Regions from separate parts of the Homo sapiens genome. Here region 1 is linked to region 2. Evidence: fine-mapped expression QTL. A gene starts in region 2. The other region holds a variant in brackets. All regions are shown on one strand. Distances are between the middles of the regions.

Region 1 (4,511 bases), 44 kb before region 2:
CTGTGGCTCCCACCGTGGCAACGGCCTATGGCATCCCCTTCTGCCAGGACTCCTGTGGGCCTCTTGGCGTTTCTGCCCACCCTGAGGGCAATTCATAGGTTGGTCCTGGCCCTAGTGGCCTCAATTCCTCATGGGTGTTGCCCTCAAAGCCCAAGAGCTTTCTGAGACCATCTGGTGAGTCTGCCCTTGCCTCACCAGGCTCCCCTGAAGGCATGCCCTGGGGTTGGGCTTCGATCTTGGGAGGGAGCCGTCCACTTATCTATCACTCATCCATCTTCCTTCCTTCTTTCCAACCAACATCATCTTCCCTCCCTCCCTCCCTCCGTCCCTTCCTTCCTCCCACCACCAACTGAGCGTGCACCATGCACCCGCCACCATGCTGTGTGTAGTGGACAACGAGCTGCACAGGACAGAAGAAACCCCTGGGGCCAGGAGAGTGGAGGAGGCACTTGGCCTGGTTGGTGACTCTGGGGAGGCATCCTGGGGAGCTTGAGCAGGTGCTGGCCAGAGTGAATGGGACCTGTGCGTCCCAGGCAGAGGGCATGGTGCGGACAGGGAGTGGAGCCTGGAAGCTGCCTGTAGTGCAGGAGCTCACGGTGGCACATGTCGTATGAGGCAGGGACCGGCTGATGGGCTGAGGTCAGCAGGGCCAAGGTGGGCAGAAGCCCCTGGGCCCCTAGCTGTCACCCAGGGCACAGGCAGGGCGTGTGGTCTGCGTGTGCACACGTACAAGTGCACACACACGCCTGTGTGGAGCCCTGGCAGGCAGAGACTAACCCAAAGCCTTTCTTAACCGACTGTAGTAGATTTGGGAGGGCTGCGGGTTCAGAGTAGGAAAGCAGCCTCGCAAGGTCGCACAGGCCGGGACAGGCAGATGGTTGGATGTGCACCGGGTCTGACCAGCTGCTGAGCCTGGCTGGGAGTCCTGGGTAGGGAGCTGAAGCGGGGGTCCCCAAACCTCTGTGGCGGCCAGGCCCCGTCCTCCAGCTCCAGCGGTGCAGCATGCTCAAATCCCAGGTCCCTGTGAGCGAGCGCTCCTCCACTGCCACCACGGACCCCAGCGCCTGCAGCACAGCCTGCAGGGAGAGGAGCAGAGGGAGAGTGAGCTGCACCAAGTTCCAGAGCTGAGCAGAGAACCAAGACAGCAGCAGGGCAGACACACCACGAACTCGGTGTCCTCAGGAGCCCAGGTCCTCCCCTGGTGCCTGACACAGCTCCCTCATCTGCTTCTCACAGCACATCTGCGAGGACAGGACTGGCCGTGTACTTTACAGATGAGGACACTGAAGCGGGAGGTGCATGCTTTACCAGGTGGCCGAGCTGGAGGAGCAGCCCGGGAGGTGTGGCATTTTGAGCTGCCCACCCCACCGCGGAGTTCTCCTCTCCCCACATTGCTCAGGTGGCCCCGTGCCCAGTCCAGGGAGGAAGCCAGCCACAGTTACCCCATCCCCCTTTCCCAATAGGCCTTGTCCCAGCCTCCCTTACACCTAGGGGAGGCAGGAGGCCCTTAGGGGTCTGGAAAAGTCTGTGGAGCAGGAGGGCTGGGGGTGGCTCTTGGAGAAGCTTCTGTGTGCTGACGGAGGGAGAGAGCCACGCTAGGGCAAGGCCTTTCTGGCCACTACTGCTGAGCCCTACCCTGCCTTGAAATTTGCTCATGAGGGAGGCCTGTGCCATCTTGTGACCGCAAACAAGCAGACGGCAAAAGACAAAAGCCAGTCTGCCGGCGATGGCGGGAAGATGACAGTGATCGGGCCCACGGTGACAGCGCTTGGGGTCCATCGGACATGCCTGTTCGGTGAGAAAACACTCTGTCCTCTGTTCTAAGCACATCTGTTAGGTGTTTTGTGACTTGCAGCCAAACTCACTGCGTTCCTAACTCAATGGTCTTTCCACCCCACCACCGTCCACGTTGGGCAGGGAGTCATGGTGTCCATCCCAACCGTCTCCTTGTCTCAGGGCCTTGGTGCTTCCATCTGTGAAACGGGGGAGCATCAGATGACCAACTTCCAGGTCCCACGCTGGCCTCCTTGCTTCCCAGGGCAGGCTGGCCCTGTGCTGGGCACTGGTACCCGCCATGGCCTAGACCTGCTCTCAGGCAGGCCAGGGACCGTGAGGAAAGGATCCTCC[G/C]TGGCGAGGATCATGAAAGAGGAGGTGGGTGGCCCAGTAAGACATCATGGCGAAAAGGTACTGGGGCTTCTCTGGATTCCCCTGAAGACTCAGATGTCGAAGGAGGCCCAAGGCAGAAACACAGAGATTCACAGAAATTCTCCATGAGCAGGAAATGAAATAGAAAGAATGCAAACTGGGAAAGAAATGAGGCGGCTCAGGTCATGCCTTCTGGGGAGGGAGCGTGGGCAGGCCAGGTGGCGGAAGCCTCGCCTGATAGTAGAGCTGAGAGGGCAACATCAGCCAAGAGGGGAACCTGGAAGGGGACGAGGCCTGGGGGCCCTGACACTGCACGAGGCCCCTTAGTGCCAGGGCCTCTCAGCAACCTTCTGGGCAAAGAACTCTCACCTCTCCCCATTTTACATGGGGGGAAACTGAGGCCCAGAGGCATGGGGTGCCGGAGATGCCCCCGTAGAGGGGCCTGGGTGTGGACCCTGGATTGTCTGACTCTAAGTCACCTTTCAAAGCAACTCTATGGGGAATCTGTTTTGTTTTTGGATTACACAGATGTTGTCTGTGTTTTAAAAGTTTTACCACAGAATAAATAAGAAAGAAAATACAGGCCACTCACGCCTGTAATCCCAGCACTTCAGGAGGCTAAGACAGGCAGATTGCTTGAGGCCAGACGTTCGAGACCAGCCTGAGCAACACAGCAAGACCGTGTCTCTACTAAAAATAAAAAAACTAGGCCAGGCTTGGTGGCTCACGCCTGTAATCCCAGCACTTTGCGAGGCCGAGGCAGGTGGATCACCTGAAGTCAGGGGTTCGTGACCAGCCTGACCAACATGGAGAAACCCTGTCTCTACTAAAAGTACAAAAAAATTAGCCGGGCGTGGTGGCACATGCCTGTAATCCCAGCTACTCGGGAGGCTGAGGCAGGAGAATCACTTGAACCTGGGAGATGGAGGTTGCAGCCAGCTGAGAGCGCACCATTGCACTCCAGCCTGGGGGACGAGAGCGAAACTCGGTCTCAAAAAAAAAAAAAAAAACTTAGCCATCGTGGTGGCGCGCCCCTGTGATCCCAGTTACTTGGGAGGTTGAGGTGGGAGGATCACTTGAGCCAGGGAGGCAGAGGTTGCAGTGAGCTGAGATTGTGCCACTGCACCCCAGACTGGGCAACAGAGTGAGATCCTGTCTCACATATACACAAAAAACCCTAAAAAACCAGGCCAGTTGTAATACCTGACAAACCCAGAAGACCATGAAGAAGGGCGGGGTGGGGCCCATACCAGCGTCCATTTGGGAGGAAGCCCTCGTGGATCTCTTTGCCAAGGCAGTTTCTTGGGGCTTCATCTAGGGTTTGCTTCCCTGGCTTATGGTCTGGATGGGGGTGGGGAAGTTCACCTCCAGATTCACTGTCACTGGCTGAGACAGGACTGGGTCCTCGCCCACTTCATATAGGTGGTAGAGCCGCAGCAGGACACGGCGGAGGTCAGCCTGGGCTTCCCCTCGATGGCCTTTGGGGACAGAAGGAAGGTGGCAGTGAAGACCCTCATCAACCAACCCCAATGTCCCTGGTCTATACCCGCTGCTTTACACACTCAGCTCCATTTCCTATCTGTAACCTCCTCGATATGGTTTGGCTGTGTCCCCAACCAAATCTCATCGTGAATTGTAGCTCCCATAATGTCCACATGTTGTGGGAGGGACCTGGTGGGAGGTAATTGAATCATGGGGGTGAGTCTTTCCTGTGCTGTTCTTGTGATAGTGAATAAGTCTCATGAGACCTGATGATTTTGTAAAGGGCAGTTCCCCTGCACACGCTCTCTTGCCTGCCACCATGTAAGACGTGACTTTGCTCCTCATTTGCCTTCTGCCATGATTGTGAGGCCTCCCTATCCAGGTGGAACTGTGAGTCCATTAAACCTTTTTTCTTCATAAACTACCCAGTCTCGGGTATGTCTTTATGAGCAGCATGAGAACAGACTAATAGACTCCATGTGAGACAGCTGACATGGCCCCCACTCGACAAGGAAACCAAGGCTCAGAGAGGGGCAGTCACGTGCCCAAGGCATACAGCTGGTGCGCGGCAGAGGGAGGATTCCCACCCAGGTCTGGCCGACTGTAAGGCTGCCCACCATGACACCAGCTGCAATGTTTCCATCCTCGTCCACTGTTGTGGGCATATTGGGGCATGTCCTCAAATACTCCAGTCTCTCCTACCCTGCCCCCTTTGAAGTCAGGGGAGGCTGCGTGGCCTCTGTGGCCAATGCAAAGTGAGCTGAAGTGACGCAGTACTTCCCGGCAGAAGCTTTTTCTTGCCATGGTGAGTGAGGAAGCACGTGCTGCAATACAAACTCCATCAGCGGGGGGCGTGGTGGCCACAGCAAGAAAAACCTTCCTGC
Region 2 (4,000 bases):
GAGCTGGCAGTTTTTTCAAGAATAGACAGAAATTCAGGATTAAATTGAAAGCAATCTCTCCCAGGCATGGAACTCACCGTGAACCTTGATCTAAACAAGGCTGTGAATAGCCCGGTGGGGTTTTGGCCCTGTGGTTTATGCCAGCCTGGCCCTGGCCCTGGCTAGAACTGCCCCATTGAGTTTTCCACCTGGGTCTTTGCCAGGATACTGGGCCAACTGTGTCACCTGGTGACCTCATTACCTGGTATTTCTGCTGGTCCGAGGCGACGCCATCCCACCACAGCCGGAAAAACTCCTGCTCCACAGCGATGAACCGGCGCTGCTGGCCGCGGGCCAGCTCTTCCACCACTGAGGTGTAGACATTGGCGGCGTACGCCCGCATGCTTTCCTGGGGAGGGGACAGCATCATGCCAGCCCCGGTCCAACAAGACCAAGTGTCCCTGGGGCCCCTGCCATTCGCCAGGTGTGTCTGCATGGGGTTGGGGGCTCTGCCCTTCCTTCCCTGCTGCTCACCCCCCACACAGCTATTAGGCACTCGCTCCATACCAGGCTCTCCCCACTGGATGGGATCGTGCTCTCCTGGGGGAGAGGGACGGGGAAACAGACACCCTACATGGGCAGAGACAGGTGCCCTCCCAGCCCAGGGGTCAGGGACAGTTTCTCAGAGGGGTGAGCAAGCTGGGCCTTGAGTGTGCAATTTGGGGGGCTGGGCCCTGAGTGTGCCATTGAGGGGCAGCACAGGAAAGTCTTAGGCCTCAGTCGGGGTGTGGTCCAGTGACCCCAAAGGGGCCTGCTGGGGCTGAAATGAGGAAAGCTGGTGCTGAGAGGAAGAGCTCCCCAGGCTGTCCCTGGCGTCTAGGCGTCTGCCTCCCCAAGGCTGGGAGCTCCAAGGACCACAGCTGTAGTGTGTTCCCATCCGAGTCCCGAGGGCCCTGCACACAGGGTGCCCACAGAGTGCTTACATGAATGGAAGGAGCACCGAGCAGGGAGTCAGGAGGCATGAGGGTTATTCCCGAGCGACCTTGGGCAAGGCAGCAACCCTCTCTGGGCCTCGGTTTTCTCCTCTGGAAACTGGCTGTAGTGGGCATGCTTCCCCTACCCTTTACAGATGGGGAAACTGAGGCTTAGGGACCAAAGCCCCTCGCCCAAGGTCCTGAGCAGAACCAGGAGGTGACCACAGGTCCACCTTCACCCCTGTCCTGGGGGGCGGAGGACGCTGAGCTGGCCTCCAATATTCAGCCCCGCAGGGGACCAGCCCGGCCCCTTCCCAGCGGGCACCTGACATCCACCTGCTCTGAAGCCAGCCCCACCCTCTCCTGCTCCAGGCTTCCCTGGAAAATGGGTTACCACTGTCAACCCCCAAGCCCCTCCCCAGCCGGGAATGCAGGGGTCCCTCCAATCTGCACCACCCTCCAGAAGGGGAAATGGGGGTTCAGAGGCAGGAAGTGACTGGCCCGAAGTTAGCGACGCAACCAGTCAATGGCAGCGTGGGGTCCTGAACCCACTGAGCCTCCTTCTGCGCCGGCATCGGGCCCCGGGACGCAAACCCACACTCAGATCCCGCGGGGAGAGGGAAGCTGCAGCCTCAGGGGCGCGCGGGGCGTGGTCGGCACCTACCTGCACAGTGTAGACCCAGCCCACGTCCATGTGGCTGTGGGGCACCACGAAGGCCCGGATGGGGCCGGCGGACTGGACCCCTGGCGGTCGCAGCAACAGGAGCGGTGCCAGCAGCGGCAGCCAGCACAGCTGCCCCATCCCTGCGGCAGGCCGGGAAGGTGCCAGGCCCACTTCCGGGTCCGCGAGGGGCGGGGCGGCCGCGCGGGCGGGGACGCGGCCCATTGGCTGCGGGCGGGGGCGGGGCCCATTGGTTGCCGGCTGGACGCCGACCCCGGGAAGCTCGGGAAGGAGGAGCTGGAGGCGCGGGGCCCTCAGCGGGGCAGGGCGCCTGCTCTTTGCGGTTTAGCTCTCCATCCCCGTCTCCAGCTTTCTGGCCTTCCCTCCCTGTCCATCCTTTCAGCCCCATCTCCCCCAAGCCTGCCAGATCTCCCCCAACCAGAGGAGACCCCTCCTCGCCCAAAGCCCACGCTCTGGTGGTTCCTCTCGGAGCGTGTGCCTCTTCGCAATACCTGCATCCCGCCCTCTGGACTCGGCTCCGGGACTCTGAGGCTACCGTGCAAAATTCGGCTCAGCACGGACCCTGTGAGCTCTGCCACCAGGAACCTTCCCTGATAACCCTTTCCCTCCTCTCCCTGGCGTCGAAACCCCATCTGGGCGGCGCCATGGGGGGCTTGTTATGGGACTGTCTCCTTTTTTTTTTTTTGGACAGGATCTCACTCTGTCTCCCAGGCCGGAGTGCAGTGGCGCGATCAGGGCTCACTGCAGCCTTGACCTCCCGGGCCCAAGTGATCCTCCCACCTCAGCCTCCTGAGTAGCTGGGACCACAGGGGCACACTGCCACACCCAGCTAATTAAAAAAAAAATTTATAGAGATGGGGGCCTCACTATGTTGCCCAGGCTGGTCCCAAACTCCTGAGCTCAAGCGATCCTCCTGCCTCCGCCTCTCAAAGTGCTGGGATTACAGGCATAAACCAGCATGCCTGGCTCAACTGTCTCCATTTTAAGGAGGAGAACTGGCTTTCAGAGACAGTAACTGACTTGTCCAAGATCACGCAGTTAGTGGAGGAGCCAAGAGAAGCTTTCTGGGTTACTGGATGGTGACCTGGGGCGACATAGGTAACCTCGCTGAGCCTCAGTGAAATGGGTCCGATAGAGGAGCTGTGAACAAAGTAAGGATGCACCCAGGCTGAGAGCGTGAGCACAGCACCCCTTGCCTGCACTCAGGGGAGGTGCGGTCACATTGGTGCAGCCTGTTTGGGACTGTTGCCTGGAGTCAGCCCTGTCCACTACTCCCTGCCCAAGAAAGCAAGGGTCTGTGGCTTGGGGTTTACTGTCTGAGAACCACTTGGCTGTGCCCCTGCCTGGCATTTCCTAGCGGAACCAGAGCTGCAGCTCTGAGCAAAAGTGCTGGTCCTCTTGTCCATTATGTAACAAATGGAAACTGAGAACAGGTTCTCCAAGCAGGTCTCCCTCCTCCTTCTGTCCTGTCCACCCCCTGGGGACCCCTGCATCCCCATAGCCTCAGGTCAGATGGTCTGAGCCTGACGTGGACAGTACTCACTAACACATGTCCCCATGACCGGCCAGGCTCACAGCTGGGCTCCACTCTCCAGCCTCTGCAACCAGGTGCGGCCACGTGGCTAAGTGCTAGTCAATGGGATGGGTGGGGGCGGGCACTGTGCTCCTCTTCCAGGCTGGCCCCTAACAACCTCCTGTGGGTGAGCCCTGCTCTCTTACTCACCCACTGCTCCAGTGGAGGGCACTCCGAGGACCTCAGGGAGGTTAGAGCCACCAATGGAGGCTCTGAAGAACCACATGGAACCATGAGGAACCCAAAGAGCTGTGACAAGAGGGAGAAATAAGCTTTAATTGTGTTAAGCCACTGAGTTTATCGATAAGGCAGTGTCACAATCTTTGGCAGACTGTATCTGCCAAAGATGGGCTCCACAACATTACCCACCCCCCAAGCTCTTTGTAGAATTTGGTTGACGAGAAAAGCCACACTCTAAAATATCTCAGAACGTTTATTCTAAGCCAAATAGGAGTGACCATGGCCTGTGACACAGCCTCAGGAGGTCCTGAGAACAGGTGCCCAAGGTGGTTGGGCTATAGCTTTATACATTTTATGGGGACAGAAGTTACAGGCAAAGACATGAATCAATATATGTAAAGTATACATTGGTTTGGCCCAGAAAGGTGGGACATCTTGAAGTGGGTGGGTGGTGCTTCCAGGTCAGAGGAGGATTCAAAGATTTCCTGATTGGCAATTGGTTAAAAGAGTTAAGCTTTACCTGAAGAGTTGGAGTCGGCAGAAAGAAATGCTTGAGTTAAGACAATGGGGATGTGGAAGCTAAGGTTCTTGTTACATAGATGAAGCCTCCAG

Evidence for each region. PIP is the estimated chance that this variant, and not a neighbour inherited with it, causes the effect. A credible set is the group of variants that fine-mapping cannot tell apart.
Region 1: its variant is the best candidate, but not a certain one, in a credible set for the expression of MAN2B2 in lung (TOPMed, PIP 0.64).

The regions. Positions count from the first base shown.
Region 1 is chr4:6,616,492-6,621,002 of GRCh38, reverse strand. MAN2B2 (mannosidase alpha class 2B member 2) reads right to left here. Exons shown (of 19, transcript NM_015274.3): 17 at 3,511-3,623; 18 at 959-1,076. Among named protein-coding and RNA genes, the nearest start is that of MRFAP1, 22 kb to the left of the region's middle. The variant G/C (reference allele first, on the strand shown) is at 2,128.
Region 2 is chr4:6,572,966-6,576,965 of GRCh38, reverse strand. MAN2B2 (mannosidase alpha class 2B member 2) reads right to left here and starts at 1,777. Exons shown (of 19, transcript NM_015274.3): 1 at 1,618-1,777; 2 at 242-388. The coding sequence starts at 1,755. LOC105374365 (a long non-coding RNA gene) reads right to left here. Exons shown (of 3, transcript XR_925098.3): 2 at 3,359-3,457; 3 at 2,628-2,775. RefSeq lists a silencer at 1,528-1,987 and enhancers at 1,276-2,044, 2,045-2,812, 2,813-3,581.